2 linked regions of the Homo sapiens genome follow. The protein of the gene in region 1 interacts with the protein of each later gene in a biochemical or structural test. Each region holds a gene or a part of one and is shown on either strand. Other genes may lie near its edges.

Evidence for each region.
Region 2: the proteins of CD40LG (region 1) and PHB1 form a complex in vitro, tested with the Homo sapiens proteins (one study listed by BioGRID).

The regions. Positions count from the first base shown.
Region 1 is NC_000023.11:136,647,027-136,650,957, forward strand, and holds the start of CD40LG (CD40 ligand), read left to right. Parts: upstream 1-1,131; 5' UTR 1,132-1,222; coding exon 1,223-1,378; intron 1,379-3,239; coding exon 3,240-3,371; intron 3,372-3,931. UniProt on the Homo sapiens protein: Cytokine that acts as a ligand to CD40/TNFRSF5. Costimulates T-cell proliferation and cytokine production.
Region 2 is NC_000017.11:49,404,883-49,408,382, forward strand, and holds part of PHB1 (prohibitin 1), read right to left. Parts: intron 1,973-3,500; coding exon 1,877-1,972; intron 323-1,876; coding exon 110-322; 3' UTR 1-109.

The DNA.
Region 1 (3,931 bases):
ATGCAAAAGCCCTTCAGAAATGTGTAATCCTACACACTTCAGTGATTCAATTCATTGTCAAAACTTAAGGTGTTTTTAATATTGTTATTGTTCATTTGGTTTTTACCAACATGTAAGGAGTTGGCAATTATTTGTTAAACTCATGTCTTAGGCTAAATAAATTCCAAAAAATTCAGGATGAGAATTGTTTATTGCTTAACGTGTTTCAAATTTCTTCCATGCACATCTTTATTAGATCTTCACAGCAACCTACAGGATAAGCAAGACAGGTGCAAGTGCCTCCTTTGGGTATGAGGAAACTGAGGTCTAAAGAGATGAAGTGATTTGCCCAAGGCTCATAGCAATTTATTGGTAGAGCAAAGACTAGAATTCAGATCTCTTAACTGCAGCCTATTTTCCCTATTCTGAACTGTTACATCAGCATCAACAATTATCTAATGGATTGGAACAGTGTACACAGGCAGCTTAGCTACGTCAAGTCACGATTTTTACTTTAACTTCAATTCCAGAGTCTTGGCCTGATTTCCCTCAAGACCCTACTTATCTTTGCCTTTGCAAAATTTATTTTTCTTGCATTATCTTTCCAGCTAAATTTTATTTAATAACCATCAGCATGCTTTTTTTGCTTTATGCCATGTAGACTTGACCTGAAAACCTGCCAGGCTTTCATTGAGTTTAGTGATTAAAGAAGTAAAGTTCTGAGAAGCAATTAGTTGATGGGACACCAGTCATAAAATCAATCCAAACTTTTGTTGACATGTGTTTCTTTCTCCATATACCAGGTTCCCGCTTCGTATTAGTAAGATTGAAATTGAAATAAGTCTATTGCTGGTGGATGAATTTGTCACTTTCCTTGAAACTGGTGAACCCAAAAAGTTAGACAGTGATAGGAAAATACTGCCATTGTCTGTTAAGAAGTCTATGACATTTCAAGGCAAGAATGAATATATGGAAGAAGAAACTTGTTTCTTCTTTACTTACAAAAAGGAAAGCCTGGAAGTGAATGATATGGGTATAATTAAAAAAAAAAAAAAAAACAAAAAACCTTTACGTAACGTTTTTGCTGGGAGAGAAGACTACGAAGCACATTTTCCAGGAAGTGTGGGCTGCAACGATTGTGCGCTCTTAACTAATCCTGAGTAAGGTGGCCACTTTGACAGTCTTCTCATGCTGCCTCTGCCACCTTCTCTGCCAGAAGATACCATTTCAACTTTAACACAGCATGATCGAAACATACAACCAAACTTCTCCCCGATCTGCGGCCACTGGACTGCCCATCAGCATGAAAATTTTTATGTATTTACTTACTGTTTTTCTTATCACCCAGATGATTGGGTCAGCACTTTTTGCTGTGTATCTTCATAGAAGGTTGGACAAGGTAAGATGAACCACAAGCCTTTATTAACTAAATTTGGGGTCCTTACTAATTCATAGGTTGGTTCTACCCAAATGATGGATGATGGTAGAAACCAAATAGAAGAATGGTCTTGTGGCATAATGTTTGTTGCCTAGTCAATGAAGTCTCATATTCTTGTCTCTGGTTAGGATCTTGGGATCTGGAGTCAGACTGCCTGGGTTCAAATCTTGGCTCTGCCCATACCATCTCTGTTATCCTGGGGCAAGTGCCTCAGTTTCCACATCTGAGAAATGGGGATGGTATTGGTGTCCATTTCATAGATTAAGTGAGTTTAGCCTTGTAAAAAGCTTAGGAGGGGGTCTGATACATAGTAAGCACTATGTACGCACTAGCTATAATTATTTGCTAAAGTTCTGCTTTAAAAGTAAGCTATTTTTTTATGGAGACAGCTTTTTTCTTTTAAATTTCCAGCTAGGCAAGAAGAGCGTCAATTTGATCTAAAATTTCATAATGCTTCAGATTAACATAGACATGGATAAGTCCCAGAATTTGCAGTCTTTTAGTAAAAGTAGCATTTTCTGTGTAATTCTTCACAAGCACTGATTGTAGTTGCAGGATGCTCAGTCTCCCTCTGAGATGTTTTACATTTTTAAATGGTTAGACTTGCAGGAACAAAAGAGCAGAGTAACTTAGTAGGCTGTTTTGCATTCTTAGGAAAAGAAAACCATCAGGACTTATTTTGTTTTCATGTATTTTTTCACTTCCACTGAGGAGTATAATTGGCTGGTGTTGACAAAATACCAATCATAGATGTAAAGGAGAAAGTTGATTAGTTTTCTGGCTGTTCCTAAAATTCTGGATGCAGGAACTGTGGCTAGAAAGCATCTGGATGATTGCACTTTATCAGGGATACTTGAGTGTCCTCTCTTAGGATCTGGACCTAGAATTAATGTCATGAGATTTTTCTAACAGGATAAGGTGAGGTAGTGAGGGCTGAAGTCATCCACTGGGTTATCCAAATATTAGGTTTCACTGCTGACAAAAGAGGGGGCTTCTGGTCTGGTTGGTTATTTGTGTTTGGCCTGATGTGCTCTGTCAATCAAATGTATGGACATAGGCCTAGCTTCTAAAGGGGCAATAGTGACCTCAGTGGACTGATATTTACCGTACTATTTACATGTGCTCTTAATTACAGCAGAAGCTGCCAGCTAACTGAATCTTGTTTTGAATCTAAAAAATCTACTCTTAAAGCAAGAAAATGGTATAAAATTAGTTGATAATGCAAGTGAATTCTGTACATTTAATTATTCTAAGACATTGGAAAATAAAATATCTTGTTACTTTGAGGATAAAAGATGATTTCTTTAAAAATGCAAATGTTTTCTACAAATACTAAAGTTAAAAGGGAGAGAGATGTAATTAGAACTCGTTAACTGACACATTGCAAATTAACTTCTTTTTATAAAGCACTGCATCACAAACACTAAAATGAAGTGGGCAAATTAGCTCTGCAGAAAACTATTTTCTAGGCTGATGTTTATAATGACCAATCATTACTGAAGCAATGAGAAATGTGACAATTACAGAATATTGCTGCTATAGTATGTTGAAAAAATATGCATTTTGTAGTGAACATTTAGTAGAATAGCTCTGATTTCTACCTGGAGTTTCTGATAACATGACATCTTAATTGCTGTCTTTTATAGATTTTTAAACTGCAAATACAAAATAGCAATCAGCCAATATAATAACTTATTATTCTCCATTTATGCCTGAAAGTCCTCCTCTTGTTGATGCCGTGGAAATGAATGTAGAGGCAGATATCATTAGCTGTATTCTCCTTCCGAATGACATTTATCATATCCTTGTTATTCCAAAATAGATAGAAGATGAAAGGAATCTTCATGAAGATTTTGTATTCATGAAAACGATACAGAGATGCAACACAGGAGAAAGATCCTTATCCTTACTGAACTGTGAGGAGATTAAAAGCCAGTTTGAAGGCTTTGTGAAGGTAAGCAGCTTAATTACTGGTAAAAGTGTCATTGAAATATTTTACTACATTTGCTAGATCGGGAAACTGACAATGCCAATGTTTAAAGATTGGTTATAGACACAGACACACAGACACACACACACATATATATGCATGCAGATATACACACATACATGGGTGTGTGTGTGGGGGTTAAAAAAAAAAAACACAAAGACACTCTCTGGGGAAAATACACCCTTAGGGGCACAGTCACACATATTTGTCAGCTTACATATGCAGCTACCACTAGGCAAAATGATGAAGTCCACCAAGCTTGGTTTTTGCATTGCTGTGTCTCCCCATCCAAACCTTGATGCTCTCGCACTGGGGACCCAGAGTCTGATCCCCATTTCCCAGGGAAGCAATAGCCGTCAACAGCTGCCGTGGCAGCAGGCCACAAGTGAAGGGACACCTGAAGACTGGTAACAGTCTCTGGTGCTTCTCTGATGATGGAATTTTAGGTGTCCTGACAGTGAGATCTTTCCCTTTTACTGGGGAGAGAGGTGCAGGGAATAAGTAATAGACATTCTCAGTGTCGC
Region 2 (3,500 bases), on another chromosome or scaffold:
TCATGAAATTTCACAGTGATTTCTGGGGTGGGAGCAGAAGGAAGGCTGTGTTAAGAATCATCGGGGCTGTGGCCCAGTCAGCCCGCGGAGGTGCAGGCAGGGTGGGCCCTCACTGGGGCAGCTGGAGGAGCACGGACTGCCCCGCTGGCAGGTAGGTGATGTTCCGAGAGCGTGAGAGCTGGTACGCGATGTCCTCTGCAGCTTCCAGCTTGCGCAGCTCGATCAGGCCATCCCCTGCAGTGGCCAGTGAGTTGGCAATCAGCTCAGCTGCCTTGGAGTCGCCCTCAGCAGAGATGATGGCCGCCTTTTTCTGTTGCTCAGCCTAAAAGAATGGAGGTGGAGACAAAGATCAAACCTCAGGGCACCGCATGTCAGGCTACAACCAAAGGCCCTTCACCAGAAAGCCACCTTCCCAGGCTCCTGAAGGAACTCGGGGAGTTTACTTCCTCCTGATGGCTAGCGGGGGAAGCGGGGGGAAGCAGAGCACATTGCCCACCAGTCCTCCCCTATCCTTTCATGCTCACTCCTTGTCACGGGAGGGATACATCTCTGTTGGCTGCAGGAATATTTGTCTTATTTCAAAGTCCTCATTAATATTAATTGCAATCTAGTTTAACAACCCTACTCTGAGCCAGGAGAAGCCAAGGCCAAGGAAAACAGAAGCAAAAGAAAGGTGGAATCAATCCTCAAGGCTCATCTTTTCCTCCAGCCTTAAGTCTAAAGGACTTCATCAAAGCCAGGACAGGGCCGGGTGTGGTGGCTCATGCCTGTAATCCTGGCACTTTGGGAGGCGGAGGCAGGAGGATCACTTGAGCCCAGGAGGCCAAGGCTGCAGTGAGCTATGATCATGCCATTGCACTCCAGCCTGGGCCACAGAGCTGTCACAAACAAACAAACAAACAAACAAACAAACAAAAAACCTCGGGATGGCTAAGGAAGAGCAGCATGCACTTTTGACTGTTCCTAGAGCTGCCTGTGAGTTAGGCTGGTTCCTGACCAGAATCCAGGCACCCAGAGTGAGATCTCCTAGGCTTGCCCTACCAATATCAATAGGAAGACAGCTCTCTGCAACGTGTGACCTTCAGGAGTGTGAGGAAGAAGACAGTATTAAGCCTCCCTGAAATTACATACAATTTTGAAATGACTGGGCCCTGCGTCTATTTGCTCAACAAACATTTACTGTATACCTACTATCACCAGGCACTGTACTAGACTTATTATAATCTCTGAAGTTATGGCAGATACAAAGCAACACAAGTCTCTGCCCACACAGTGTTTTCATTCTCCAAAATTAAATCTATCCCTCTTTTCCCATTTTATTTCTTGCTGTCCCCATCTCCCCACCAATTAGGGATACTGGTGGTGGGAAGAAGGGGACAACAATAAATGAACATGTCTTTGCAAATACCAGAAAGACCAGGCTGCTACGCAAATACACTGTGTCCCATCACATTCTTTGACACATCTGGATGGATTTAGCACTAGAAAAAAATCTAGTGACGAAAGCACATCTGGTGCAACGTTTGATCTTTTTTGCTGTCAGCTTTCACTATGTAACTATGGTTAAAAATGACTTCTCAGTGAAGCTGAAAATACTCCAGGAGAAACATTTTTATTTGTAAGAGAGTGTTTTTGATCTCAGAGAAGTGGAAGAAAAATTACCCTTCAGTGATTTAGGAACATAACTCCACATATCCTTGACTAGCCCCTGAAGACTCTGGAACCAATTGCAGAAGTACAATTCCTTCAAGCCCCTTCTGATTATCCCGGAAGAAGGGATGACAGATGATGAATTTCCAGGCCACCCAGCAAATGGGGAAGCTGAGTGCCGGAGAAAGGGGAGAGAGAGGCTCCTGCCATCTGGTCGAAGGCTCACCTTTTCCACCACAAATCTGGCCCTCTCTGCTTCCTGCTGAGCCACCTGTTTGGCTTCCACCGCTTCTGTGAACTCCTTCCCGAAGGTCAGATGTGTCTAAGGGGAGAGAGTGAGCACAAGATGAGGCAGTGTGATTGCTTCGACAGCACTGCTGGGAGGGCTCCATGGCCGCTGGAAGAAGAGGCCAGCAATGGCTCTAGCAGCTGGAGGCATCCGTGAGGCCAGAACACTCTTCCACCTCCGTATCTGTATCCAAACTGAGTTTACACCCAGACTCTCTGGCTGCCCAAACTGCTCCTGTATATTACTCTGTCACTCTCAGTACAGTGACCTCATGTAGCAAATGGCACCGGGGGCTTTTGATGGGGCCCACAGGCACCAGAAGGTATCTACTCAATCGACCACCTCCCCAGAGGAGGAGAACTGTGGGTTCTAAGACCCCCGCCACTGACTAGTGCTCTTCCAAGGGCCTTTGATGCCTTGTTCAAAGCCCAAGGAAGGCCAGATGGAAAACAGGGTCCCTGAGAGTGAGGGAGGCAGCTGGTTCCCAGGGATCCAAGAGCCTGATGCTCTCTGTTTATGGATTAACCAGTCCGCGTCTTCCCACAGCAGCTCCACCACTGAACAGGAAGAGGACGAGGGACGGTGGAACGCAAATCATGGTATTCCCAATGTGAATGGTTCTGTTAAACGGTTTAAAAGAAAGAGAAAGCAGGTAAAGTCATTGGTCGGCATGAGGGTTTAGAAGTCTGATGATCCATAGACCTTCCCTAATCATGTCAGGTCTGACGGGACTGTCCCTAAAGATAGCACAAACAATGGGAAGGGACCTCAGAATTCCTAATGCCCAGCCTAGAGCAATTTACTTATTCATCCTAATTTTTATTGAAAAAGAATCAAGAGAAGAGCATTGGTTTTGCCATCAAATTCTAGTTGTTTCATTTCCTCCACTCTCCCAACCTCTGCTTTTTAAAAAAGCAGCTCCAAACTTCTCCTGAAGAGTAAATCCTGGTCTCATTCTCTTCCAGAATTTTTAACCTCCTAACTCTAACTGCAGCTGTTGTACTTCGCCTGATCCATTTCTAGTTTCTTAGTCAAAGTTTGGGTAAGAAAATCTGATCCTGAGACATGAAAAATGAAATGTATAATTAAGGAATAAAATTTATTTCTACAAGGGCCAGCTGAGGGCAGCAAATTCCCCATGAAACCTAATTTTCTTCTCACACCTTAGATAGGGTTTCTTGTGGTCAGCCCACATTTCCCCAGAATGGAGTATGTGGTTAAAGTCTAGTAAAATGCCAACTTTTCCCTTAGGTTTTTACTCAGCGTTTTCTCACAGCCAAGGTGTTCAGGTTAACGGTAATTACGAGGGAAGGGCCCACAGAATGGCTGCAGCCTGGCCTCTTGCCAGCAGAGGGAGCCCCAAGCCCCCAGGACTTCCAGCAGGCGGAGCAAGGTGGAGCAGTGCCCAGGGGTTAGCACTGGGTGTTGTCAAGTGGCTGTTTAAACAGCTGCACAGATGCCGGGGGAGGCAGTGCCTTTCCCTAGCAATGCACGGGAGAACTGAACAGGAAACACTTTACCTCACTGCCCGAACAAATCACTCCAAATGGTTTTTCCCAGA